4 linked regions of the Homo sapiens genome follow. The protein of the gene in region 2 purifies or fractionates together with the protein of the main gene of each other region. This does not show direct contact. Each region holds a gene or a part of one and is shown on either strand. Other genes may lie near its edges. The genes, in order: RIGI, SQSTM1, CD44 and HDAC6.

Region 1 (7,568 bases), on a different chromosome or scaffold from region 2:
TGTTGTCTCAGTGATTGGCTTTATGTGCAGCCAGCAAAAGAACCTAGGCTGAATCCCTGGTGTTTCAGTAACAATTGCACCCACTCTCATTGTTTCAGCAAGGATCTCCACATTAATGTCTCCCCAACTGTGGACCCTTTTCCTGAACTCCACACCTGTGCAGCCAACAATCTGATGAACATCTCTTCATGGATGTATCCAAGGCATACAAACCCAGCATACCTAAATCCGAATTTTTCTCCTCCTCCTGCAAACCTGTCCCTCTTCCCACATTTCCTATCTCAGAAACTACCATTTATTCACCCAAGGACCAAAGCCAGAGACCTGGAAGTCATTTCCACCCTGTCCTCACCCTTACCTCCTCACCACAACTCCCCAAGAGACCTATTGATTATACTTTCCAAATGTGTCTTGAATCCATCCATTTCTCCCCATTCCTCCGGATTCCTATTTTCCTAACTGGTATCCTTGCTTCCAGTTTTTCCACTCTGCTGTCCTGGCATCATTGCATCTGCCATTCTCTCTCTCCCTGTCTTGTACCTATTCAAGCCATTCCTCAAACTGAAGTCAAAGTCGTTTTTCTACAATGCAAATTCTATTTTGGTCCCCTCTCCTTATCACATTTCAGTGGATAAAGTCCAAAACTGTTCATATCCCACTTCTGCTTGCCTGTCAAGTTTCATCTCTCTGAACTCCTGCCTCTCTCTCCACAATGCCACCATACTAATATTTTCTGGATACCTGGAACACTCTAGTTTCTCTTTCACCTTGGACCTTTGCACATAAGGAGCCCTCTAACTGCAATTTATTGTCTCCTTCCAGCTAATTTTTCCTCTTTCTTTAGACCTCAGTTCAAATGCCAAATATCTGGGAAGCTTTGGCTGTGCCCTTTGGACTCTAGTAGACATCCCAGCTTTTTTCCATCAAAGCACTGCTGCACTTTATTATTTACTATTTTGTTACCTGCATTCACATAGACACACTAATCACTATTAGGGCAGGGACAGTTTCTACTGTGCTCATCATTGCTTCCTCAACTTTCAATGACACTATTAGGTAATAGGTGCTGAGTAAATTACCTCCAATGCTAACATAATACTGACACGAGTTGCTTATTTTATTCCATCAAAGTGTATCAAATCAATATATGAGTGCATGAAAAAATGGAATTCACACCAGTTGTTAGTGTTTCTTCCAAGTACTTCTTCAGGTGCCAAGCTACACTGGTCACTAGAATGCCATTCCACAACCTTTCTTTTAGTTTTGTAGAGCAATTAGCATTCAAGTTAGTTGCCGGTCTTAACGCCATTTCCAAAAACTGCAATAACATCAGGAAAGACTGGCACTTGGAGACTTTTAGGATTCCCAGGCCCCCTCTCATCGACTTTTTTTTGTTTTTCGGTTTTTTTTTTTTTTTTTTTTTTTTTTTTGGAGACAAGAGTCTCACGATGTCACCCAGGCTGAGTGCAGTGGTGCGATCTCACCATAACCTCTGCCTCCCTGGTTCAAGCGATTTTCATTCCTCAGCCTCCTGAGTAGCTGGGACTACAGGAGTGCACCACTACGCCTGGCTAATTTTGTATTTTTCGGTAGAGACGGGGTTTCACCATATTGGCCAAGCTGGTCTCGAACTCCTGACCTTGTGATCCACCCGCCTAGGCCTCCCAAAGTGCTGGCTGCAGGGAGCCGAAGGCCCTTGGGATGTGACCAACTCAGCATTCCGCTGGAGGCTATATGATCAAACAGCAAACTGTTTATCATGAATGCAGCACCTGGGCAAACTCACACTGCCTTGCCACCAAATGGTTTGCTGAGCGCCTCACTCCCTGGCGCCAGGCTCCTTGAAATTATTTATTGAGAAATCTAGCACCTATTGTTCAAAGAATGCAGTCTTGCAAGCCTGCTGTGAATCAAGCAGCCAGCCAACAAGCACCTCCCCTTCTCGCTATCTCTTTTGCCTAATAAGAAGGGCTGTGTAAAGCTCAGGGCCCTTGTCCACTAGAGGCAAGGTGCCCCCTGACCCCTTCTTCCAGATATACTCTTTTGTCTCTTGTCTTTTATTCCCGCGTTCGCCCCTCTTTGTTCAGTCCCCTAGGTCCGTGCGGGTTACATAGTGGCACCCCGAACAGCAACAGCATCGGGTGCTCTACAGCTGGGATTACAGCGTGAGGGACCACGCCCGGCCTCATCGATATCTTTTAAGTACCACCTCCTTTCACCTCTTTCCCAGAAGCCTCTGCTCATCTCCAGCACAAAGTAATTCGATACAAATTTACAAAATGGTCATTACCCAGGATCACCTGTCTCCGAAGTTAGATGGAAACACCTGTATTAAAGCCTAAAGCTATTCGGTCTGGAAAAGTCCGGCTCCTCTCCAGCTTCCACTTCTTTAGGCGTGCAAATAAGATTCGGCAGAGTAAGCATCAACTTCCTTTAAGCTCAGACCGCACTTTGTGCTCAGTACTGTAATTATCTGCCCTTTGTGTCCCATCCCTTGGACTGTAATGTATACTAAGGAAGAGCCCTTATCTTATTTCTCAATCTCTGTCAGTACCCAGCCAAGCACACAGTAGACTTTAATATTAGTGAAAATAAATGAAACAAAATTTCTTCCCCAGCTTTGAACCTAAATAGATGAGCACCCTTAAGCAAGTCACTTCACCTCGCTGGAACTCAGTTTCCCCACCTAGGCCTCCGAGGGCTCCTCAAACTCTGGCAACCTCTAGCCTAAAATGCTGCGGAGATCTTACCACAAACCTGGGGAGTCTGGCAGGCTCTCTGCATTGATTAAAAGAAGGGAACGAAGCAAGAGAAAAACAAGTCCTCAATTGTTTTCCGCCGAGAAGGCGCCGCTGGAGACACTCACCCTCCCTAAACCAGGGGGCCATGTAGCTCAGGATGTAGGTAGGGTCCAGGGTCTTCCGGATATAATCCTGGAAGGCTTGCAGGCTGCGTCGCTGCTCGGTGGTCATGCCGGCCTCTGCTTGCAGCTAGCTACGTTCCCCGCAGGCTGTGCCTCACTAGCTTTAAAGCCGGGTAGGAGGAGGGCGTGGCGAGCGGGGAAAGCAGGGATTTTCCGAGGAAATGAGGCCGGACGCGAGGCGGAGCTGCATAGGAACTTTAATAACTAAAGGGAAAATCGAAAGTGCAACTAGCGGCGGGCGGGGTTCGCGGAGGCTGTTTTGCCTCGGGCTAGTTTCGTTTCCCTCCGCACCGAGGAAGCCCGGGAACGGAGAGGACCCCTAGGAATTGCTTTTATTTTTATGATCTTATATTTTGTTTTGCTTTTATAGCGCTAACGTTTAGACACAGTAAAATGCACACAATCTGAGTGTGCAATTCGATGAGTTTTGTAAAGTGTACACCTGTGTACCCAGTTCTCCCACGTCGGCTGGGTGCCAGGGTAAGTCTATGTTTAGCTTTATAGGAAACCGCCACCTGTTGTCCAAAATGACTGATTACATCCAGTTTACATTCCCACCCGCAGTAGGAGAGCTCCAGTAGATAGACACATTGGTCAGCCTTTCTTTTTTTTTTTTAATTTTAACTTCCATCTTGGTCGGTGTGAAATGGTATATTATTGTGGTTTTAATTTTAATTTCCCATATAATTAATGGTGGGCACATTTGCATGTGCTTACTGGGTCATTCATATATCTTTTGTGAAGCATCTGCTCCAATCTTTTGCCTGACTTTGGAGTTTTTTGGTTTATGGATTTACAGGAGTTATTTATTCAGGATACAAAATTGTTAAATATATGTATTCGAAATATCTTCTTCCAGTCTGTGGCTTACCATTTCATTTTCTTAAAGGTGTCTTTTGAGGAGCAGACACTTATATTGATGCAATTTTCAGGTTTTTCTTCTGTTTGTTGTTTTTTGTGTCCTCTTTAATAAATCTTTGCCTACCCCAAGGTCATGAAAATATTGTTTCCTTTTAGATTTATATTTTTAGCCTTTACTTCTGGGTCTATTACTATCTCAAAATAATTTTGTTGTGGCGTGAGATGGGGGGTCCAGGTTCACTTTTTCCATATTTCTAATTGTTTCAGCACCGTTTGTTGAAAACTTTTCCTTTTGGCATTGGATAGCCTTGGGACCTTTGTAAAAAAACCAAGTCCATTGAATGTATATGTGTCTATTTCTGACTCTTGTTATATTCTACTTCCTACTACTTTGACAATACCATTGTCTCTAGGTTACTTTAGATTTCAACTAAGTCTCAAAATCAAGTACTACTAAGTTCTCCAAATTTGTTTTTCACTGTGAAGATATTAGCTATTTGAGATTCTTTGCATTCCTTTTTTTTTTTTTTTTTTAATTTCTTTTTTGAGACAAGGTCTCACTCTGTCTCCCAGGCTGGAGTGCAGTGGTGCAAACAGGGGTCACTGCAACCTTGAATCCCTGTGCATTTCCATATGAAATAAGAATCAACTTGTCAATTACCCCTTCCTTCCCCCAAAAAAAGTTTATGGGGATTTTGATCAAGATTGCATTGAACCTACAGATAAACTTGGGGAGAAGTGACATCTTAACAATATTGAGTCTTCTAATCCATAAGCATGGTATGCCTTTTCATTTACTTAGGTCTATAATTTCTCTCAGCAGTATTTTAGTTTTGTTTCATTTTATTTTACAGACGGAGTCTCACTATGTTGCCCAAGCTGGAGTGCAGTGGCTATTCACAGGCACAATTATAGTGTGCTACAGCCTTGAACTCTTGGGCTCAAGGGATCCACCTGGACTCAAGCAATCCTCCTACCTCAGCCATCCAGAGTAGCTGGGACTACAGGCACGGGCCATCACACCTGGCTATTCTGAACTATTTTATGTTATTTGATGCTACTGTCAATGGAATTGTTTTTAAGATTTCATTTTCAAATTGTCTGTTGCTACGGTATAGAAATACAAATGATTGGCTGGGTGTGGTGGCTCACACCTGTAATCCCAGCACTTTGGGAGGCTGAGGTGGGTGGATCACCTGAGGTCAGGAGTTCGAGACCAGCCTGGCCAACATGGTGAAACCTCATCTCTACTAAAAATACAAAAAATAGCCGGGCGTGGTGGTGGGCGCCTGTAATCCCATCTACTCGGGAGGCTGAGGCAGGAGAATCGCTTGAACCCAGGAAGCGGAGGGTGTGGTGAGCCGAGATTGCACCACTGCACTCCAGCCTGGGCGACAGAGTGAGACTCCATCTCACACACACACACAAAAAAAGAAATACAAGTGATTTTTGTTTTTTGACCTTAAAACATGCAACATTGCTAACTTCACTTATTTGTTCTAGTAATTGTTCTGTAAATTCCTCTAAGTTTTCTAGATAAATAATGATGTCATTTGTGAATACATACTTTAACTTCTTCCTTTCCAATCTTTATGCCTTTTATTTCCTTTCATTATAGTTTTTCTTTTTGAGACAGGGTCTCACTTTTGTCAACCAGGCTGCTGCAGCCTCCACCTCCCAGGCTCAAGGATCCTTCCACTGCAGCCTCCTGAGTAGCTAGGACCACAGGTGCACACCACTACACCCAGCTAATTTTTGTATTTTTTTGTAGAGATGGGGTTTCGCCCTGATGCCCAGGCTGGTCTCAAACTCCTGAACTCAAGCGATCGCCCATCTCGGCCTCTCAAAGTGCTGGGATTACAGACATGAGCCACCATGCCCAGCCAGTTTTACTTCTTTCTTTCCGGTCTTCATGCTTTTTGCCTCCTTTCTTTATTATGGTACCTCCTAGAGCCTCCTATAGAAAATAGAATAAAAGTGGTGACAGTTGACACCATTACTTTATTGCTAATTTCAGTGGGGAAATCATCAATGTAATAATAATCACTTTAAATAATATGGTAGCTGTAAATTTTTCTTAGATACCTTTTATCAGATTGATGAAGTTCTCTTTTATTCCTAGTTTGCTGAGTTTTTATAATGCATGGGTGTTGAATTTTTCAAATGTTTTTTCCTGCATTTATTGAGGTGATCATATATTCTGTTAACATACCAAATTTCACTGATCAATTTTTGAACGTTCACCCAACCTACCATTCCTGGGATAAATCTCATTTGGTTTTAGATACAAAGGATGCTATATCATGACCAAATGAGTATTTTCATAAATACTTTTGTGTCTGTGTTCATGAGGAATATTAGTCAATAATTTTATTTTCTTGTAATGTGTTTATCAGGTTTTGATATCAGAGTTATGCTAGTCTCATAAAGCAAGAGTTTGTTTCAGATTGGTATCATTTTCCCCTTAAATGTTTAACAGAATTCACTAATAAAACCATTTGGGCTTGACATTTTCCTTGTTTGAAGATTCTTTATAATGAATTCAATTTCTCAATTAGATATAAAGCTATTCTGACTTTTAATCTTTAATCAGTTTTGATAAATTGTGCTTCTCAAGTGTTAAAATAATTGGTAGGCCATTAGACTGATGTAGCTGTAACACCCTCATGAGGAAAATGAAACTTAGTTTAGCCAATCACAGTTGGCTAACTGGGACATTGGTTATATTGTCATAAATTTCTCACTTGGATAGTCCAAATAAGGCAAACACTCAAACTTTAACCAATGAAACAATTTCTTTGCTCTGTGTCCCTTCAACCCCCTCTAACAGAGCCCCAGACCATTTCTGGTTTGTAGCTGCTTAATTTATGAATCACTGCTGGAACACCTTAATTTTTTTTTTTTTTTTTTTTTTTTTTTTTTTTTTTTTTGAGACAGAGTCTCACTCTGTAGCCCAAGCTGGAGTGCAGTGGCACAATCTTGGCTCACTGCAGCCTTCACCTCTAGGGCTCAAGAGATTCTCCTGCCTCGGCCCCCAAGTAGCTGGGACTAGAGGCATGTGCCATCACACCCAGTTAATTTTTTTGTATTTTTTTAGTAGAGACTGGGTTTCACCATGTTGCCTGGGTGGTCTCGAACTCCTGAGCTCAGGCAATCCACCCACCTTGGCCTCCCAAAGTGATGGGATTACAGGTGTGAGCCACCACGCCTGGCCAGCTTGAAATTTTAATGTGGAAAAGTTTATATTTTAACACAAGGAATTTGATCATTTCCTCTAAATTGTTAAATGTATTGGCATATGGTGTTCGTGATAGACCTTATTATCTTTTTTGCCTTTTTAAAAAATCAGTCTTGCCAGGGATTTACCAATTGCATCTTTTCAAAGAACAAACTTTTAATTCAATAATTTTATTTTTTTAAGAGACAGGGTTTTGCTGTGTCATCCAGTAAAATGGACTCCTTGGATATACGTTAATCAAATATAACTTTAACCTCTTTTAGCTATAACTCTTTGTATTCTTTTAGCTATAGGTCTCTCTCCATACACACATACACATATATATTTGTATACACTCTACATATTATTTTATACGTGTGTGTGTGTGTATTTAGTGGTTGCACTAAGGATTATAATATGTATCCTCAACTTAATCTATTTAGAACTAATATTGTACCACATTAGGTAAAATATAAGATCATCACAACCATGTAATTCCACCCCATCCTTTTTGCTATCATTGTCTGAAACTGTACTTCTATATGTTATAAAATACATACTACAATA
Region 2 (7,187 bases):
CTGGACCCTTCCGGGGTCACTTTGCCGTCTTCCTCCAGCCCCCCTCCCTACTCCTTGTCGCCGCCCCCCCGTCTTTTCAGGACCTTGCGCACTCAGGCTGGCCCTATGCTTTGGGGTACCCCAGCAGTGCCCCCGGGTCTCCGGCCACCCGGTGACGGAGGGAGGGAGAGGCTGGCGAGGGGGCGGCGCCTTAGGTCCCAGCGCGACCCGCCTCTCAGCCCCTCCCGCCGGCTACAGCCGCGCGGGACGGGGCAGGGACCTCGAGAACACCGGGGACTTGCGGGCCGGTGGCCCCGGGCAGGCCACTTCTGACGCGGGTGCGAGGCCTTCCGCGGGCGTGCACGGTTGGGCCGGAGCCGCGCCGGGGGCCGGGACACGCCTGGGGTCAGCGCTGGCGTCGCCGCTCGGGTGGGGTGGGCCGGGTTCGGGTCCAGTCTCCTCCCCACGGGCGGCCCGCGCCCCGTCTTCCAGTGACCCCCACATCCCTTGCGCCCCGAGCTGGAACTTCGGCAGGTTCTGCCCCGGGCCGCGCGCGCTTTCTGGGGACCAGGGCTGTGGTTCCTGCTCCGCGTCGTGCCTTTAGACACCGCCGGGCGTTCGTCCTCCATCCCTCCCCCCTTTTCCCCACTCCGCGGTTGACGAGGGCCGCCCCCAAGTGGCCATGTCCCCCGGCATGGACGACCCCTCAGTGCCCCTGAGGGCCCAGGGTCTCGCCCCCGTCCCGAGGCAGGCCATGTTTGAATTTATTTGGAGAAATTCGCCCAGCCCAGGGGACCTCTTTCTGCAGCTCTGGCCTTCCAGTAGGAGAGGGTCCCTGGGGCTCTCAGGCCTGACAACTTGGCATCACTGAATTCTCTAACCATGTCTGTCCATGACTTGAACTCCTTTTCTTTTAGAAAGATCTTTGCAAACCCCTTGTGGGCGTGCCCCTCCCATGGCCCCCGTGCCTCTTGCCTGGGCTTTGGGCTTGTCTGAAAGGGCTAAAAGGGGGTGATGCCTGGCCGGGCGGGTGGCTCACGCCTGCAGTCCCAGCACTTTGGGAGGCCGAGGTGGGCGGATCACCTGAAGTCAGGAGTTCAAGACCATCCTGGCCAACATAGTGAAACCCATCTCTACTAAAAATACAAAAATTAGCAAGGCTTGGTGGCAGGCACCTGTAGTCCCAGCTACTTGGGAGGCTGAGGCAGGAGCAGGAGAATTGCTTGAACCTGGGAGGCAGAGGTTGCAGTGAGCTGAGATCGTGCCACTGCACTTCAGCCTGGGTGACAGAGAGAGACTGTCTCAAAAAAAAAAAAAAAAAAAAAAAAAAAAGTGATGTCCAGTGCCTGGGGATTTTTCCTAGGGAGTGGTCAAGGAAGGCCCCGCTGAGGAGGAGACATTTAGGGTGGGAAGTTGCCATGTAGGGCAGGAGTGGAAAGGGTTTTGGACCAGAGGGAGAGCCAGGGAAAAGTCACCAGGTAGAATGAGCTGGCATGATTAGGAAGATGGCAAGGGAGGGCTGTGGCCCTCCCATGTGAGTGGAAGGGAGTGGCTGCAGCGCAGAAGGCCTGGAGGCCCCCGCACAGACCAGGACCTCTGTAGAGGAACTCATCCCCTGTGTCCCCTGTGATTGTCAATCTCCCTAAAGATGGCCCAGAGCAGTGCGGCCTGAATCCCTCAGTGGCCTTGTCTCTGGCTGCCCCAGCACCCACGCGGACACTTGACTCCACGCCCCAAAGAAAAGAAGCGAACCTGGGAACACCACTGCCAAGGCATAGGATTATTTGGGAGGGGGGAAGGGGGAACTGAGGAGGTGGTTACAACATGCTGGGCAGCAACAGACAGAACCAGACCACCCCTGTGGCTGCCCCGGCTGGTCTCCTGGGACCACTGGGCGCTTGGCTCAGGCCTCTCCTGCCCTCCCCACTCTTCCACCTCAGCCCCCCTGCAGTCTCTGTCCTGCCCTGACCCCCCAGCTTACAGCCCCAAAAGCAGCTAAACAACTCGCACACCCACGGGGCATCGCCTGGGAGGGCAGCCCAAATCCTTCCACTTCAGCCCCATTTGAAAGATGAGGAAATGAGAGGCTGGTCCATAGTGGGTCTCGCGGCTCAGGTGCCGAGCCTTCCCTGGGCATGCACGCCGGGCCCTGGAGGGTGGGAAGGGGCCAGTGGACGCGGGGAGCCTGCGGGGTGGGACTGCATCGGGAAAGGGGAAGGAGTCAGAGGCGAGAAGGGGGAGAGTGTCTGTCTGGCTCCAGCCGCTGCACGCTCTTCCTGCTCAGGGGACTCACGGTGACCCCGGAGCCACTCCCCAGCCCAGCCTCCAGGTAAGAGGTCACTGAGATGGGTGGCAGCAGGGGCCGGGGATCCCCCTATTACGACAGCGGTCATGGGACGCTGACTCACTGCCGGCCAGACCACCTGACCTCCGCGGCGGGAGGAGAGGGCCCTGCCAGGGGGTTCCCGCCGCGCCTTGTTTACCTCCGGGAGGCCTCGGCCTCGCGTGGGGGCAGGGCGGCCGCTGGGGCCGCAAGGCGTGCGGGGAAGGGCCAGAGCCGGGTGTCCACCCCAGCTTCCCAAAGACTCCCTCTTCTGTGCTTCCTTCTCCCCTCCCCGCCCCCCCCCCAGTCTCTTCACATGCCCCTAGCCCCCGCGGAAACTTCCCGCGATCCCAAACGGGCCAAATGGCGAGAAAGCAAAGGAGCTCCTTCTTGGGGGTGAGTGGGGCGCCTTGAGCGCTTCCTCAAAGCTATGTTCCCAGAGCCACAGGCCTTCCTTGTGTCCCTCACCCTGCTCAGACCGGGCCATAGCCGGGGGCTGGGGCAGGAAAGCCGGCCCTCGGCGGGGGCCACGTGGCTCTCAGGCGCCTGGGCTGCTGAGTCACGCTTGGCCAGCACCTGTCTGTAGGCCACAGCCTCTGCCAGCACGCCCCTCTGTGTCCCCTGCCCCTGTCTGCAAGGCAGTGGCTCCAGCAGGCCCTGGGGCATTTTCCACTCTCCACCGCCGGATGCAGGGAGAGGCCTGAACCCTCTCCACAGGGCTGCTCTGGGCAGGGTGGAAGCCTTGCCCACTTCGGAGCCCTCCGGGAAGGATCATTCACACCTGTGGACCAGCCCCTGCTGTGCGCACACCCACACATCACCTTCGCACCTGACTGGCCCCATCCAGCCACTCTTGCCTCCCTCTGGGTTTCCTCCCCTGGGAGGTTTCTCCAGCTCCTGCAAGCCCTGGGCTGAAATGGCATGAGTTGGACCCAGCAGGTTCTGACCTCCTACTCACAGGACCTTGCCTGGGAGGCTCCAGAGGGTGACCACTCGTCCTGCCCCTCTCCTTGCCCCAGTTCTGGCGGACAGGTTACTCTGGTGGCATAAAGCAGTGTTTCTTCCTTCCTAGCTGAGGAGGCTGTTGGCTGACCCCCTTGGCTGCCCACAAGGCCAACGGGCCTGAGCCCCCACAGGGCCATGGGCATTACCTGCTGAATTGAGGAGCCCATAAGGAGTCACTTGGACCACAGTGAACACTTGGCGACCACTGACACTCAGGAGACCTTAGCTGGTCCTCCAGCACCTCTCAACTCCACTCCTACTAAACTGGGAACTTCTCTGGTGCTCAGGCCAGAGTCGGGGTCCGTCACCGAGTATGCTATGCGCTGCCCATCACCGAGGATGCCATGCGCTGTAAGAGGGCTGCCACCGCGGCAGGCTGACCATGGCAGGGTCGGAACAGCAACCTGAGAGCCAGCTTGTTCTGGCCAGCAGTGCCCACTGGGCGACCTAGCAGCCTCCTGATATGGGGGCTGTGTCCCCCTCTCCCTGCACTGGGTACCCCCAACTGAGGATATTGCTGAGTCATGGCCAGGCCCAAGCCTGGGAGGGGCGAGGGGCTGGACCCCCGCCAGTACCCTGATCCCAGGTGCAGAGGCTGGAGCCCAGGCCTGTATGAGTGCCAGGGCCGGTTTCCTGGGGTCCTTGGTGCACCGGGGCAATGAAGAGAGGGGTCAGCAATGAGGGGGCCGGGAGACCTGGAGCGAGGGGTAGCGGGGAAGGGGAGAGTAGTGAAGGGGCCTCTGCAGGGCGGCTCTCGCGCCGCGACGACGGTGGCGGGGGCGGGGAGGGCGCGAGAGACTCCGCCCCTCTCGAGGCGGGGCGGGGCCTCCGCGTTCGCTACAAAAGCCGCGCGGCGGCTGCGACCGGGACGGCCCGTTTTCCGCCAGCTCGCCGCTCGCTATGGCGTCGCTCACCGTGAAGGCCTACCTTCTGGGCAAGGAGGACGCGGCGCGCGAGATTCGCCGCTTCAGCTTCTGCTGCAGCCCCGAGCCTGAGGCGGAAGCCGAGGCTGCGGCGGGTCCGGGACCCTGCGAGCGGCTGCTGAGCCGGGTGGCCGCCCTGTTCCCCGCGCTGCGGCCTGGCGGCTTCCAGGCGCACTACCGCGGTGAGCGGGCCGGGGAGCGGCGGGGGCGGTGACGCAGGCCGGACACGGCCTCCTGCCGCGGGGTGGCTGCCCCCTCCCTTCTCGGCGACGCCTGGCGGGCCGTGAGGGGGTCTGCGCTGGCTGCTCCCTGGATGGCGGTGGCCTGCATGGGTCCCCAGTTCGGCCATGGGAGCCGGCCTGGTGACTGGAGTGGTGACCAAGGCCGGGACCCGCTGCTCAGCGTCGGCCCCCTGGGGCGGTGGAGCCCTGCCGGCCGGGGGCTCGAGCCTGGGGGCGTCAGACGCCCCGCTCCACCCCCCGCGCTGTTGGGGATTTTGGCAAGGACGCGCCGGGGCGAACGCTCTGGCTCTCCGCGGGCACTGGGTGGTCAGGCGGGCACTCGGGTTACACTGACACCTTGCTGCGCCAGGTGGTGGGTTCAGATAATGCCCTGGAGGAGCCGGGCGAGCGCCGGCGAGGGGAGGGAGTGACGCGGGTAAACAAGCGCGGGGGTGCGGGGGACTCGCGAGCGCCGCGACAGCGCCTGGGAGAAGGGCACGGATCGCCGGCGGAACGCTCCGAGCCAGGTCGAGTACAGATGTTTTCCCATTGGCAAGTGGACGAGAACGTTCTTCAGAAGTGTTGGTGTTGGCACAGAAGCCCTGTTTCCTGCTGCGCTGGTGTGACCAGTGGCTGCTGGGGGTGGGGTTAGGGAGGTGGTTGTGGCCAGGAGGGCGGGAGGTGGCCAAGGCCGGCCCCTGGGAGGGTGCAGTGCTAGGACCTCCCTCTGGAGCGCTGCCAGCATACCAGGCCCTCTCCTATTCTTAAAAAAAAAAAAATTGTGATGTTATTGAGCTGTAACTGAAATAAGGGTTCACCCATTTAGTGTACAAGTCAGTGGTTTTCACTATTTTCATAGGTTTGTGGACCATATTCAGTGTGAGAGCTTTTCATCACCTTATAAACGCCATACATACCTTTTATCACCCTCTTATCCACATGCCCCCAGCAACCTCCTTTCTGTATCTATTCATCTTGCAATCCTGGACATTTCATGTAAATAGAATCAGACAATGTAGTCTTGCAAGTGGTTTCTTTCACTTAGTGTAATGTGTTCAGTGTTGTGGCACATATCAGAACTAGTTTTTTTTGGAGGAATAATATTCTGTTGTGTGGACAGGCCATGTTTTGTTTACCTGTTCATTAGTTGACAGACATTTGGGTTGTTTGCATCTTTGGGTGCCTCACCTGTGCCCTCGGTGGATGGCGTGGTTTGGTCTGCACAGCTGTGCTTTAAAGCCATTTCAGCTCATATGTATCTGTCACAAATGGAGACTACATACAAATACGTGTCTTTCAGCTTTGTTAGGGAAGGAAGCAGGCAGATGCCCTTGTCTTCTCCTTTACTCCCAAGCCACTAGAAGTCTAAGGCCTTTGTGGGGCTGGGCCCCTCAGGAGCAGGTCACAGGCAGGGATCTCCCACAGTTGAAGACGGACATGGGCCTGGTCGGATGGGGAATGAGGTGGCACGTTTCTGAAAAGGCAGCTGGCCCAAGGCTAAATAAGTGCAGCAGCCAAAGCTGCTGCCCCTGTGCACAGGCCCTCCGCCCCCTGCATGTGGCTGTGGTCCAGGGCCCAGGTCGGAGCACTCACCTTCCAGGAGGTGCCAGAGCAAGGGGGTAGTCTTGCCTCTCACTCCTGCCCTCTGTGGCTCAAGTAGGTGTGTTTGTTTATAGCCCTGTGAGTGTCCCTTTCATACTTGCCTCAGCCCATTCCAGCAGCTTATGTCCAGCTGAGAACCCCTGGGTGCTCACGTGCTGTCTTTTAAACAATCTAGATGAGGACGGGGACTTGGTTGCCTTTTCCAGTGACGAGGAATTGACAATGGCCATGTCCTACGTGAAGGATGACATCTTCCGAATCTACATTAAAGGTAAGGGGCTGCTCTGGGGGCTGCCTGAAGCCAGCTCAGCTTGTACTCAGTTCCCTGCTGAGTAAAAAACAGGGCTCGATGTTCCACCAATGAAGGGGTCAGCAATTTGAGGGCTGTTTAAGACAGAGACATAGGCCAGGTGTGGCTCACGCCTGTAATTCCAGCACTTTGGGAGGCCGAGGCGGGCAGGTCACCTGAGGTCAGGAGTTTAAGAACAGCCTGGCCAACATGGTGAAACCTTGTCGCTACTAAAAATACAAAAATTAGCCGGGTGTGGTGGTACATGCTTCTAGTCCCAGCTACTCAGGAGGCTGAGACGAGAATCACTTAAACCTGGAGAGCGGAGGTTGCCATGAGCCGAAATCACATGACTGTACTCCAGCCTAGGCGACAAAAAAAAAAAAAAAAAAAAAAAAAAAAAAAAAAAGACATTTTAAGTGCTGTGCCTGACCTGAGAAAGAGGAGTCCATGTTCACTCTAGGGATGGGGTCTGGTGCCGTGGTGCTTGGGTTAGGGATGGGGTCTGGTGCCGTGGCGCTTGGGTGAAGGGCAAGGCCAAAGCTGTGCAGACAGGGCTCCTTGCTGCTGCTCTGCTGCCTGGGCCAAACAGACACAGGGACTGGGAACCTCCTAGCAGGTTCTTGGTGGCTCTGCTGCCCTCACCTAAGTGGCTGAATTTTGTGTGGATTCCATGCTGGAGAGCAGGGCCGGGGGCCTTGCTGGCAGTGACAGCCCCACAGTGACGACAGAGGGGGAGGACTTTAGGGGGTCCCACCCTAGCGGCTCTCTTTACCCTTCCTGTAGAGAAAAAAGAGTGCCGGCGGGACCACCGCCCACCGTGTGCTCAGGAGGCGCCCCGCAAC
Region 3 (7,024 bases), on a different chromosome or scaffold from region 2:
GGCTGGGAGCCAAATGAAGAAAATGAAGATGAAAGAGACAGACACCTCAGTTTTTCTGGATCAGGCATTGATGATGATGAAGATTTTATCTCCAGCACCAGTAAGAATAATCAATTACAGTACAGCCATTTATGCAAGGCTTATTGATTAATCTGAGTGATACCAAATTGTATCTCTCTTGAGAAGTAGTTAATGTGAAAAATGGGTGAACCTATGATCATACCTTAGTTATATCTTGATGAGATTATGGAAGAAGAAATAGAATGTTTTGAGAAGTGGGGAAAATATCTCACAAAATTTCTCTTGTCTCATGTTCTTCCTGTTTTATTTATCTATGGGATCTACTGCTACAGATTGTCTTTGAATGATCAGGCTTTATCAGAGAATGACATTAAAACAGTACAAAAAATGTACATTGTGTACTTACTGTGCTAGGTGCTGGAAACACGAAGATGAAAAGAGCCAGAGCCTTTGCTTTTCAGAAGCTCATGGTCTGTTGGAGCAATAGACTTGAAGAATGTGATGAGGAGGGTATTAATTAAAAGTTGTAGGCCAGGCGTGGTGGCTCACACCTGTAATCCCAGCACCCTGGGAGGCCGAGGCGGGCAGATGACGAGGTCAGGAGATCGAGACCATCCTGGCTAACACAGTGAAACCCCATCTCTACTAAAAAATACAAAAAATTAACCAGGCGTAGTGGCGGGTGCCTGTAGTCCTAGCTATTCGGGAGGCTGAGGCAGGAGAATGGTGTGAACCCAGGAGGAGATCGCGCCACTGCACTCCAGCACTCTAACCTGGGTGACAGAGCCAGACTCCATCTCAAAAAAAAAAAAAAAAAGTTGTGGAAGTTCCTAAATTGAAGGCCCTAAAGGCTTAAATGATGGGAGCTAGAACTCAAGAATTATCTTAGTTAATCAAAGCCCAGCTGAGGTCAAAGGAACAAATCCAGAGTTTTAACAAATGAGCTGGACACCAATATAGCAGAAAGACCTTGAAGGGAAGGGCAAATGTCAGGTTAGCTTTAGCAAGACATTGCCACTTATTAAAAGCAAATAATGAAACCACTATTGGTACATAATAGTATCCAAATTTTTGACAATTATAAAACTTTTTGAGAACAAAGAGATGGAAATTGAGCTTTAAAGATATCCTTAAAAAGTTAAAAACATGCAAAGGTTGGTCTAATATTCTGCCAGATTACTGAGTTTTCCACACATACCTGTAATGACTTAAGATTTTGCTGAACAGAGCTGAGAATCCTGAACCTGACTCCATCACAGTTCTGCTTTTCCTTAGAAAAAAGGCTTTTGGGGTGCTGTGTGAGCTCTCCCAATTCACTGAAGTTCTATCCATTCCATTAAAATCTGAGAATTTCATCCTCAAATGGACAGAGAAGAAAGGGTCCAGAAAAAAAAATAGCTTAGGCCTTGAAGGCATCTGAGTATATAACATTGATATGACAAATACTCAAAAGGAACTAGAATTTTCTATCTAAACTTTTAAGTGATTTTTTTTTTAGACCCGACACCCCTCCAGAGCTTAATCTATGGAATAAGAAAATTCCTTTTGGTAACTTCAGAACAAAAACCAAATAATCAAAAACACTGGAGTTTTACATTATACTGTCTCCTGTGTTCAGCATGTGGCCCAGCTTTGCAGATGGGCCCATCAGTAAATACGTGGTCTTGATACTGAAGAAATTAAATTCCCTTGGGTGGTAACCCAAACAGATCTACCTGTAAATGAATTGTATGGTCAGGCTTCAGGGAAAAATTTCCCATGGTGTTGTTTTTTTTTTTTTTTTTTTTTTTTTTTAATTTTTTAAATCTCTATGGCATATTTTTCCAATTTCTGCTTTTCTTTTTTTTTCTTTTCTGCTTAGCACCTATGGACATAATTCAACATGATGCCCTCTTTCTTCTGGAGGGGTGTGATAACTGCTTGATAATAAGCACTTTTTCAGGCCTATTGAGAATGTGGTTAATGATTCTAAACTTGATTTTTCATAACTTGTAAAATAGAGCTGACAGTATTATAGTTCTGAAAACAGTTTTGCGTTATTTGGGTATCAAAATAAAGTTTGAAACAATTAGGATGGATTTGCAAATAACCTTTCACAAAACATGTTGACTCAGATTTTGTCATGATCCTTCTGTTAGGTGCATCTCTTATTCCAGCCCTAACAGATTGGGTGACAATATCAGGGTGCTGGTGGATGTACGCCTCTTTCTTTCCAGTGTGCTGCTATGATGGTGGCTGGTTACCTGTGGTGTCTTATTTTCTTTCACTGGCTATGAATGGCTTGCTCATGACATATTTTGTATTTGATGAGAATACCATAGTGTTTGATAAATATTCAGAAATGTATCGCTAAAACATATGGCTATTCTAGGTATTCTTTTTCAGAATCATCTATAGGAAAGCTCTAGCTGCTCAGGCATTCCTTTCCCCACTGAAATTACTAACAACATAAAGTGATTATCATGGTATAACTTTCAGTTATCTGCCTCTTCACCCGGAGGATCTACAAACAGCACACAGTGACTAAGTCCCTGGGCTTTCAAGTGCAGAGGGATACTACAGACTGCATGGATGGGCAAAATGGCGCCTTTGGTTATCCTCGGTGGAGGGCTGGTGTTTTCAAAGCTGTCCTTCCTACTGCTGCAGCTTCTTTGACTGTTTTATCTGGAAGATCTCATGTTCTGAACCCCAAGGTATTCTATGACAGAATGCAAAGGACACTGAGATGCTTACCAATATGGCTGAATTAAGCTGAAGTCACCCTCCGCTTTCCCTCCATTTCCATGCAGCCATCTATACAACCTGGTATAGATGATTCATTGCATAGCCTACAGAAGCAAGACTATGTGCGGGACAAGTGGCGAAGGCTCAAGAAATAACATTTTTCTAATTGCTTCAATCATCGTTATCACAGTTTCAACCACACCACGGGCTTTTGACCACACAAAACAGAACCAGGACTGGACCCAGTGGAACCCAAGCCATTCAAATCCGGAAGTGCTACTTCAGACAACCACAAGGATGACTGGTAATGGGTTCTGCATATTTAATGAAAGATTTTTTTCCCCTCAAAGCCCATGATGCTGCAAAGGTCAATCATCGAGGCACAGTGGGAAATTTAGTTAATATCTGATCAAGAAATTCTTAGTGGACTTTTATGAGGATACTTAATTCCATTTAGGAGTCATTTATCAATTATACCATGTGGGCACAGGATTTTTTATGTTGCTTCATGATAAAAATGAATATGTTTGAATGGTTTGTGGTTCTGCCTTTGACAAACTGATCATAGTGGAATAATAAGGGAACATGAAGAAATTCCAAGCCCATTGATTTTCTCTTGAGACCAATTAGGTAAAGTCACTCAAAATTTTTGAGAGTGGATGCTCAGAGGTAACACTTTGGCATAGAATTGTTAAATAGCATGCACTTTAATGGAAGAATAGAATCATTAAAGATTGGTTGATAACAAGTCACAGTGTATTTAACCATCATCACAGCAGATGTAGACAGAAATGGCACCACTGCTTATGAAGGAAACTGGAACCCAGAAGCACACCCTCCCCTCATTCACCATGAGCATCATGAGGAAGAAGAGACCCCACATTCTACAAGCACAAGTAAGCAAGATGGCGGTCGGCAGTTCTGGGTTAGATGAATTAGTAAAGACATTCCAGCAATAGGGAAGATTTTGTTTAGAAATTGGCCGCATCTTCTATTTCCACTCGGTAATTTCTTTTATTCTTAGAGCCTGAAAAGCTGCTAAACCCGCACACAAATTTTAAAAATTGGAAGGAAAATGATAACTCATCAGGTTGCCCAAAGGCCAAAATGTTTTAAGAAGTAGATCTAGATACAATTTTTGTGTTAAAGGTTCCTAGAGGTTCCATTTGGGTAACTTGTGTGTGTTCATTGAAATGTGTGGCAAAGAGTGTGTTCTTTTGGTGCTTAGTAGTGGAATCTGGAAAGAAAGTTTGTCAAGTGAATTGATCTTTGGAATCCTTATTTTCTATGAAGATCTTTGATGAATACAGTGTCTTTTTTGCATTCTGTCCCTGACTGTTCTATAGAAAGACATCCCTTGTACTCTTTAGAGCAAAGTTGGTAGCTCTTATGGTCTTCATTTGAATTCTACCACTGCTTCTTTTTCTGTTTTTAAGCCCATGGTAACTTGGGGAAGGCTTTGATGCTCTTACTGTTATTTCTACTATTATGAAAACTCAGGTTTTCCAAAACAATCTCAAGTTGCGGCAGTGGACTGTGAGAATAGGGGGCCCCCTCACTCCCCAAACATAAGAAGTATGTGCTTTTCTTCTTTTATCTATCCCGCTGAGATATGTCTATCTTATTTGGAATAAAAGTATTTATTTTGGAAAACAGCTTTTTAGCATTTTTAAAATGATGACCCAACTGTCATTCTCACAGCCCTAGATACACCTAATGGGGAAATGTGAGCCACTTAAAAGCCACTTAAAAACCAAAGGGCTTTGGGAATCTATGGCTTGAGGGGTGCCTTCAGATAACAAAAGAAAAGTTTCAGGTATCAGTTAGGATAGAGGTTAGACATTGTACTGAATATATCCAGCAGATCTTACATCCCATTACAAACCCCAGTAGGTGTGTTGTATACATACGGCTTAGGGGTTAAGTTAACAAAGAAGTCTGATAAGAAAAGGAAATACAGAGGAAGCATAAATCTCTTTGGAATAGGATTTTGTTCCACTCCCTTAGAGCCCTAACAGTATACCTTAGAAATTATTTTAGACAGTTTGTACTTAAAGACCAGAAAGCTACTTTAGAGACTTGGAAATAATGAGCCTATTGTCAAAAGGTGGTGCTTGCGGGGCATTAGGACTAGAGGGTTGGTGAAAATTCAGACAGAATGTAACTTGACAAAGAGAAGACAGCAACAACTGTAACAATTATCTTATGAATATTTGCGAAACTCAAAGGGATCTGATTGGTGACCTCTGGGCTTTATCAAATTAACATCACAACTTCTAGAAGAAAGTCAACCTTCATCTTTTACAATAGAAATCATATGTTTTGCTAACCCATTCCTATTTAGGCTGAAAACAATTAAGAGTTATGGGTACTTAAAAAAATCATTATGTTTATAAAATTAGTGATAGAAGGAGCATAGTGTTCTATACAGTCACACACATACACTTCCTTATTTCTTTTATTTAAACTTTGAGTAACATAGCAGTCTATGTTTGGGTCAGTTTTCCCTTTTTTGTAATTACATTCAGTGGTTTTTGTAACTTCATTATTTATTGGGAATTAGTGATTTAGTCAGTGGGAGTTTTGTAAAACTTAAGATTTTGGCTTTTTTCCCCCTCCTCCTGGATAACCAGTTAACCCAATAATGGCTTGGCCGATGGAAGGGTAAAATGAGGACAGTTATATTTTTTAAATGTCATTACTGTCACCAAATCACACATATCATTTTCTAAGATAAGGAAATACAACCATTTTTACAAGTTGCAAAAAAGTACTCTGGCTTGGCAAGTTTATAGACTCTCATTTTCTTGATAAACTAAAAAAAAAAAAGAAATTGCTACAAGCTGCTATAGACAAAAATGTTGGTGTCTTTCTGACTTTTCCTGAAGACACCTTGATGGAATTATATTCTCTTGATTTTGTCCTTTTTAAAATGATGGTTGAAATTTTAAGCCTGTCACACACTATTATTTATATAATGCCTCAAACTGGCTTGGATAGTTTTCGTCAACTGAATTAATTTTGTTAAAAAGTGATTTTAGCAATTTTAGGTGCCATGTGGACATCACCAAATACTGTGTTAGTGGAATAGCATCCAAGCCATCCCACCATCTTTCCTGCTGGGCAAATCCACTGCTGGTGCATTTCCAGTGTGTGCGATTATGGGTTACATGACCACCATTTGAGAAGGTCTCCTAATGTGCTGATCTTGTTATTAGCTGTTATACAGTGTTTTCCTTTCGTCAAAATGACTGGAGCAAAGAGGTTATTCTTTGAATGGTTTTCTCAGACAGGGTATGTGAAGCCATTCACTACAGTAAAATAAAAATAATAATAACTCATAGAACTATGAGAATTCATCAGCTATGGTCTGCTTAGTCCTATGATTTTGAACAAATCAAAACTTCTTTGGACCACAATTTTCCTAGCTGAAAAATTAAACATTTGGATCATTTGATTTCTCATATCCCTTTTAGAATATCAGTGGCCTGTTTCCTTGGTGCCTTTCTTTTCTACCTTCCCTCCCCATGTGTATCTGCCCTTAAAGTAGAAAGATATGTTGACAGCTATTGGTGAGGAAAATAGACAATTATGTCTCCCAACTGATATTCTTCTCACAGTCCAGGCAACTCCTAGTAGTACAACGGAAGAAACAGCTACCCAGAAGGAACAGTGGTTTGGCAACAGATGGCATGAGGGATATCGCCAAACACCCAAAGAAGACTCCCATTCGACAACAGGGACAGCTGGTAATGGATGGTTTAACAAGTAAATTTGGATGGAAACTTCCTTTTGGGTTAAACGGTAGACATTGAGGACATTGAACAAAAGGACACTGGAGGAATTGTCACGAGATGTTAGGTTACTTAATAAATTATGCTGCAGTTCACACAGAGCCAAACCTTAAAGGCTCATAACAAGTCACCTGAACAGGAATGGATACAAGCCAGTTATGAATAAGAACAGGAAACACAGAGAAAATGCCCTTGAACATGTCTCTTTCACATCGAGTTTTGGGCATCATCTAGTGAGATTGTAGCAGAGGCCCTGATAAAATATCGCTGTCTGTTGTATAAAGGAATCTACTCTATAATGTGGGTCCAGACTTTACAATATGATTCTGCAAAGTCTGGCTGTGAGAAAGCATTTTGTCAGAACTCCAGTGTTTGAAGAAATAGAGCCAGACATTATGTGAAAAGTGACACCTGTCTGATGTCATTTGGCCTTTTGGCCATGCCTGTTCAGTAATTTGTTTTTGAGTATAAAAAAGGTATCTTCT
Region 4 (7,024 bases), on a different chromosome or scaffold from region 2:
ACAGACCCTTGGCAGATTAAAAAAATAATTATTGTTAATTTTCAGGTATTGATACTAAGGTAATGCTTTTCTAAAAAAGTGTACTTATGTTTTAGAGATGCATTCTGAAATATTTACAGGAGAAATTATATGGTATCTGGGATTAGCTTTGAAGGAAAACAGGAAGAGGGCAGTGGGTACAGGTATAGATGAAATGAGATCGGCCAATGAGTTGATAAATGTTGAAGCATTAAATTCCAGAAGCCAGAAATGAACAAAATAAAGAACGTCGGAGGAAAACATTAATAAAGATAAAACCAGAAAAATTAATGAAGTATTAAAAACCCACCATAATAAAACAGTAGAGATGACCAACAAAGCCCAAAGCTACACTGGAAAAGATAAGTACAACAGATACACTTTGGAAAGGCTGAGGGAAAAAAGAGATGTTACCCCAAAGAAGAGGCCTCCTTTGTTCTGACATCTGGCAGGATCCCATCTAATGCCCGGGTCCTTGCCCACACTCGCTAAAGTTGCAACCTGTCAGTGGACATTCCCTGTCCCCATTCTGGGGAAATGCCTTTCAGGAAAACAGACCTACAAACACTGCAGCAGAGTAGTCCTCTGACAGCCCCCTACAATGGGCCTTCATTCTTGGGTATAAATAGCCAAATAAGGATTGCTAGACATTTGAGGAAAACCATCAGCATAAAAGAGAAGGACCAAGAAAAAAATAATTCAACCAGCCTCAGAATAAAGAGACATAACTCAGACAACAGAAGAAACTTAAGGCACTTCCTTTTTTGAGACAGGGTCTCCCTCTATCGCCCAGGCTGGAGTGCAGTGGCATGATCTTGTCTCACTGCAACCTCCGCCTCCTGGGTTCAAGCGATTCTCCTGCCTCAGCCTCCTGAGTAGCTGGGATTACAGGTGCGCACCATCACGTCTGGGTAATTTTTGTATTTTTAGTAGAGATGGGGTTTCACCATGTTGGCCAGACTGGTCTCGAACTCCTGGCCTCAAGTGATCCACTCACCTCGGCCTCCCAAAGTGCTGGGATTACAGGCATGAGCCACCGCACCCAGCCGGCACTTCTAATCCATACTCTATAAAAACAAGATCAGGTATGAGAGGACATAGAAACAGAGAGGAAGAAAGAGCTTTTGGAGTTTAACAGGATATCTAAATACATAATTCAACAGAAGGGCTTGAAGATAAAGTTGACAAAATCTCCCAGGTCACAGCAAAAGAAAAAAGAGACAGAAAACATAAGATAAAAAATAAGAAGCCTGGGCAACATGGTGAGACCCCATCTCTACAAAAGATTAAAAAATTAGCTGGGTATGCTGGTGTGCACCTGTGGTCCCAGCTACTCAGGAGGCTGAGGCATGAGGATTGCTTGAGCCCGGGAGGTCGAGGCTGCAGTGAGTCGTATTTGTGCCACTGTACTCCAGTCTGGGCAACAGAGCAAGACCTTGTCTCAAAAAAAATAAATAAATAAATAAATAAATAAATAATAAAAAAGAGAGAGACATAGAGGATCAACCCAGGAAGTCTAACATCTGACTAACAGAAGTCCTAGAAAGAGAACAGAGAAAACAAAGAAGAAATTATCAAAGATCTAATAGAAAATAATTTCCAAGAGTTTAAGAAAAGCATGAATCTTCAGATGTAAAATGTCTACCTACTATTAAACAGAGTGAAAAGGCCAGGGTAAAAGTTTAGAACATCAAGGCTAGGTACAGTGGCTCATGCCTGTAATCTCAGTGCTTTGAGAGGCTGCAGTGGGAGGACACTTGAGGTCAGGAGTTCGAGACCAGTCTGGGCAATATAGTGAGACCCTGTCTCTACAAATAATTTAAAAAATTAGCTGGGTGTGGTGGCACATGCCTGCAGTCCTAGCTACTTGGGAGGCTGAGGCAGGAGGATTGCTTGAGCCCAGGAGTTTGAGGTTACAGTGGGCTATGATCATGCTACTATACTCCAGCCTGGGTGACAGAGTGATACCCTGTCTAATAATTTAAAAAAAAAAAAAAAAGAACACCAAGATAACCTTGCAGAGAGGAAAGTAGATTACTTGGAAAGGAATGAAAAGCAGACACCTGTCAGGAACACTGAATGCTGCAAAATAATAAAGCAATGTCTAGAGAACAACCAACCTAAATTGGATTCTTCAGATCTTGGATAAGTGGATTCTCTGTAGTCAGCTAGGAAGAAGGCTAGATAAAACTACTACAGGTTGAGCATCCCTAATCTAGAAATCTGAAATCTGAAATGCTGTAAAATCCTAAACTTTTTTTTTTTTTTTAGATGGGGTCTCAGTCTATCACCCAGGCTGGAGTGCAGTGGTGCGATCTCAGCTCACTGCAACCTCTGCCTCCTGGGTTCAAGTGATTCTCCTGCCTCAGCCTCCTGAGTAGCTGGAAATACAGGTGTGTGCCACCACGCCTGGCTAATTTTTCTGTATTTTTGTAGAGACGGGGTTTCACCATGTTGGCCAAGCTGATCTTGAACTCCTGACCTCAGGTGATCCGCCTCGGCCTCCCAAAGTACTGGGATTACAGGAGTGAGCTACTTCACCCGGCCCTAAAATCCTAAACTTTTTGAAGGCCAACATGATGCTCAAAGGAAATGCTCATTGGGGTATTTCGGATTTTGGGTTTTCAGATTAAGGATGCTCAACCACTAAGTATAATATAAATATTTCAAAATCTGAAAAAATCTGAAATGTGAAATACTTCTGGTTCCAAGCACTTCATATAAGGGATACTCGACATGTACTTAGTAATGTCTCCTACTGACAAGGACTTGCTCAATCACTTTCTGCAGGAAGGGTAAGCTGGTCCCCTCCTGGAGGGAAGTCTGGCAGTGTATACCAGACTTTAAAGTATGCTGACTCTCTGGCCCAAGCAACCCACTGTTAGAAATTCATCCTACAGATAGACTCAGAGAAGTGCAGAATTACATATTTACTAGACTATTCACAGTAGAAGTGCCTGTAATAGCAAAAACTGGCAGGCATCTTAAAAGTCCTGGGGTTAAATAACCAGAGGTACAGTCATAAAATTGAATACTACAAAGAACGAGATACTTTAAGAGGTACTAACATGGAGAAATGTCCCAGATATGCTGTTAAATGAATAAAGCAAGTTGTCGAAGAACATGTGGAGAATTATTCCATTAGGCAGTGTGTTATTAATAATTATAACAATAATAATAAAAATTCAGACATCTATAGAGAAAATCTGTAAGGATATAACCTAAACTGTCAACACTTATTTTTGAGGTAATGGAAATTAGAGGAGACTCACTGCTTCAGACACTTCTGTATTATTTAATTTCTTTAAACAAATAGTTTGTTATTTATTTATTTATATTTGTTTTTTACTATCTACTGAAAGGATAAACAAACACTTTGAAGCATTATCCTAATCAGAAAAAATAAAGCAGTAATTTGAGGTTCACTCTAACCCAACGGTTAATCAGTGAATAAGATCTTCAAATATTTGTGGGTCAAATCCCGTCTCTCCCAGTTCTTCTCTGTGTGACCTCTTAACGTATAAGCCTCAGTCCCCCTATCTGTAAAATAGGGAACCCAACAGTCCCTGCCTCAGAGTGAAATTAGGAGAGATGGCAGACACACAAAAGTAGCACAGATCCTGATCCCAGGATAGGCCCCATGAATGTGAATGCCTTTTCCTCCTTCTGGACCCCTTCTGGCTGGGCCTGTAAGGGTGGGAGGTGGCTGGGAGTCTAGCACCTAGGTGGGAGTCGGGGTATACCTGGGGTCCTGGTCGAAGGTGAACTGTGTTCCTTGACCGTGGTGCACATCCCAATCTACGATAAGGACCCTAGGAGCAGCAGAGAGAGGGGACTCTGTGCAAGGAGATCAAGGTGAATCTGGGGGAAGAGCCCAGACCAGGACACCCCACCCCATGCCACCCCCATCACATCTGCCCTCTGTTGCTGACCTCCGGATGCGGTGTTTCTGTTGAGCATAGCGGGCTGCCACAGCCACGTGGTTGAACATGCAATAGCCATCCATAAGACTGTGCTGGGCGTGATGTCCAGGAGGCCTGGGCAAGACAAGGAAATAACAGCTTGGAGTATGTGAGGGGTCCTCCTCTGCAGAGACAGACTGTCCCCTGCTCTCTAATCCTGGACCACCAATTCCTTTAATGCTGATGCCTAAAAATCTGCCGGGAACTGAGTAATGGAGGCCCTCAAACTCTCACCCCCTGCCAATCTACCCCTCTGTCTCCAAAGGAGATTTGAAAATGTTCACTAAAATGATAAAGGCCGGGTGCGGTGGCTCAGGCCTGTAATCCCAGCACTTTGGGAGGCCGAGGTGGGTGGACCACGAGGTCAAGAGATCAAGACCATCCTGGCCAACACGGTGAAACCCCGTCTCTACTAAAAATACAAAAAATTAGCTGGGTGTGGTGGCGGGCGACTGTAGTCCCAGCTACTTGGGAGGCTGAGGCAGGAGAATCACTTGAACCTGGGAGGCAGAGGTTGCAGTGAGCCAAGATTGCATCACTGCACTCCAGCCTGGTGACAGAGCGAGACTCCGTCTCAAAATAAATAAATAAATAAAAATAAAAATAAAATGATCAACGCATTCATTCTCATACCCAGTCATTCTGCTGCAGGAACTTAGCCCACAACCTGTGTTTTAAAAAGGGTGAAGTAACATTTTTATTTTATGTTAGTGTAAAATAAAATTTTATTTTTATAAAGGTACTAGCATATTTGCTGTAGCATTTTTTTAAAACAGCAAATGACTGGGGAGAACCAAAATGCCCATTAGTCGGGGACTGATTAACATAGAGTGCATTTACACAATGGTGTTCTACCGGGCTCCAAGATACATACTGTTAGAGAAAGGTTTCCAAGATGTGTAAGTGAAAAGATGGTACGAAGGGAGTATGTCATGTTACTACCATTTGTGGTTAAAAACAGGGGAGGGAGGAGAAAGCTTTTGCATTTCATCAGTTCTGGGATGCCAATGATGATAAGATGTACCATGATTTTACATGCCAAAAACGAAGCAGAAAATACTGCCAATGGAATTCTGAGATGTCACTGTTTGTAAGATGCATCTGGATTTCAAGATGTTACAAATATGAAAAAATGTACACCTTAGAATCAATGAAATATGGTATTTATTTCTTGAATAAGACTTTGTGGGAGGACACATGAGTCAGTGGTTCCAATGACTACCTCCCATGAGAGGAGGCAGGTGTCTGGGTGACAAGGATGGGAGACAGATTTTTAATTATATTCTCTTTTTTACCTTTGGATTCTTGAATCACATGAATATATTACCCATATCAATACATTTTACACTTGAAGGAAGGACTTTAAAACAATGTAAAAAGTCAAATGCTGTAGAGTCCTACCTAATGATGGCCATGCCATTCCGGATCTCAGCCCCCAGGACCGCATCCACCAGCCTGAGGACAGAGCCTGAGGCCAGGCAGGCACAGGAGTATGAGTTCTGGAGAGACAGTGGGGAGCCAGAAAGGGAGTAAGGGAGAGAACAGCCCTATCCACTCAGCTGCTTCCCCCAGGGTGGGGTGGGCATAGGGATGGGGACCCCAAGATTGCCACCATTCCCTGCCCGCAGAGTTCTCATCCATACCGGATGCAGATAAACTGAGTCGTAGGTGTCTGCTAGGACACGGAGTTCTCCCTCATTCATGTACTGGGTTGTTTCCATCAGATCAATATATTCTAGGCTAGACACAGATGGGAGATGAGATTCAGGGCCCTGTCTCTTCCCCAACTGAGCTGTCCATACACCAACCCCCTGGTCAAATTAGGGCTTGGCTCCCCCAACTGTCAACCTGAAGGAATAGCCAGGATATAAGACACATTCTGTTTCTTCCCTAGCCCGCCTCAGTTCAGGTAATGTTCTCTGCTCCCCTGCAGTAGCCACACCAAATCCTACTTTCAGGCCTTTGGCCACACTGGTTCAGCTGTCTGTTCTTCCCTTCCCTCAGTCACCCTCTTCATCTGACTCACTCTTTTTCTCCTCTTAAAGTTCAGCTCAGATACCTGCTCTGGAAGCTAGCTTTCCTCAAGCCACATAGCACTAGGCCTCTAAATCTGGAAGCCCCTGGGGGAACCCCGATCACTCTGTCCACACATCCACCATCTATTCACACAATCAGATCATGATAACAGTAATAGCTCATCATGGGCTGATTATATATCAGGCCCTGTTCTAAGCACCTGACACACATCAAACTCTCCTGAGGAACTTATGTTTACTGGTCCCCTTGTTACAGGCGATGACACAGATTCAGAAAGGCTCAGCGACTTGCCCAAGGCTGGCTGCAGAGACCATGACATTGCTTCCCAAAGCGTTTAGCTTGCCCTGGTTTGTCCAGGGCAGGCTCCTCCCCATCCCTACAAGGCTCCCAAGCCTTCACCTGTGAACCAACATCAGCTCTTCCTTTTCAGCAAACCGGGCCTGGGGAGAGATGAGGAATAAAGTGGGGTAAAGGGTTAAGGCATGGGCTGCACCCAGGTCAGGTCAGCTCCCTGCCCTTCACCCAGAGTGTTGGCTTGGGGGCCTTACCTGAAAGGACACGCAGCGATCTAGGAGGCCCTCCTGGATCAGTTGCTCCTTGATGGCATGGAGCCGCTCAGGGCCTTCCGGGAAGCTGGGGAGATGGAGTCACAGTCACAGATGCATGAGGACACTGGGGAGCTCCACATCTGTTCTCTCCACATCTCCCCATCCACCCTTCCACAGCTGCTTACCCCAAAACTGTGGTGTCAGTCCTGCCTCCCATCAGCTCTGGTGTGTGACCCTCTCCTCACCACTGCCACTGCTATTACCATACCCTCCCGCCTGGGCTGTGGCGGCATCTCCTCGGCCTCCCTGCTTCGACCCTCGCCACCTCAACGGTCCTTTCTGTGCATAGCAGCTAGACACTGGTTAAAACCCTAATCAGTTCATGTCCCTTCGAGGCTCCCATCCCATTCTGAGTAAAAGCCAAAGTATTACCCATGCCCAGAAGGCCCTAAACAATCT

Evidence for each region.
Region 1: the proteins of SQSTM1 (region 2) and RIGI purify together in Homo sapiens (affinity purification with western blotting; 5 studies listed by BioGRID). This does not show direct contact.
Region 3: the proteins of SQSTM1 (region 2) and CD44 purify together in Homo sapiens (affinity purification with mass spectrometry; 4 studies listed by BioGRID and IntAct, with this or other methods). This does not show direct contact.
Region 4: the proteins of SQSTM1 (region 2) and HDAC6 purify together in Homo sapiens (affinity purification with western blotting; 6 studies listed by BioGRID). This does not show direct contact.

Annotation. Positions count from the first base shown.
Region 1 is NC_000009.12:32,523,195-32,530,762, forward strand, and holds the start of RIGI (antiviral innate immune response receptor RIG-I), read right to left. Parts: upstream 3,003-7,568; 5' UTR 2,973-3,002; coding exon 2,867-2,972; intron 1-2,866.
Region 2 is NC_000005.10:179,816,730-179,823,916, forward strand, and holds the start of SQSTM1 (sequestosome-1), read left to right. Parts: upstream 1-4,175; 5' UTR 4,176-4,207; coding exon 4,208-4,412; intron 4,413-6,228; coding exon 6,229-6,324; intron 6,325-7,128; coding exon 7,129-7,187. UniProt on the Homo sapiens protein: Molecular adapter required for selective macroautophagy (aggrephagy) by acting as a bridge between polyubiquitinated proteins and autophagosomes.
Region 3 is NC_000011.10:35,198,147-35,205,170, forward strand, and holds part of CD44 (CD44 antigen isoform 1 precursor), read left to right. Parts: coding exon 1-100; intron 101-2,499; coding exon of another isoform or gene 2,500-2,771; exon of another isoform or gene 2,772-2,935; coding exon 2,936-3,049; exon of another isoform or gene 3,050-3,521; coding exon of another isoform or gene 3,522-3,524; coding exon 3,525-3,641; exon of another isoform or gene 3,642-4,398; intron 4,399-6,365; coding exon 6,366-6,494; intron 6,495-7,024. UniProt on the Homo sapiens protein: Cell-surface receptor that plays a role in cell-cell interactions, cell adhesion and migration, helping them to sense and respond to changes in the tissue microenvironment.
Region 4 is NC_000023.11:48,805,064-48,812,087, reverse strand, and holds part of HDAC6 (protein deacetylase HDAC6), read right to left. Parts: intron 6,651-7,024; coding exon 6,566-6,650; intron 6,458-6,565; coding exon 6,417-6,457; coding exon of another isoform or gene 6,413-6,416; exon of another isoform or gene 5,721-6,412; coding exon 5,624-5,720; exon of another isoform or gene 5,480-5,623; coding exon 5,382-5,479; exon of another isoform or gene 5,128-5,381; intron 4,056-5,127; coding exon 3,951-4,055; intron 3,831-3,950; coding exon 3,762-3,830; intron 1-3,761.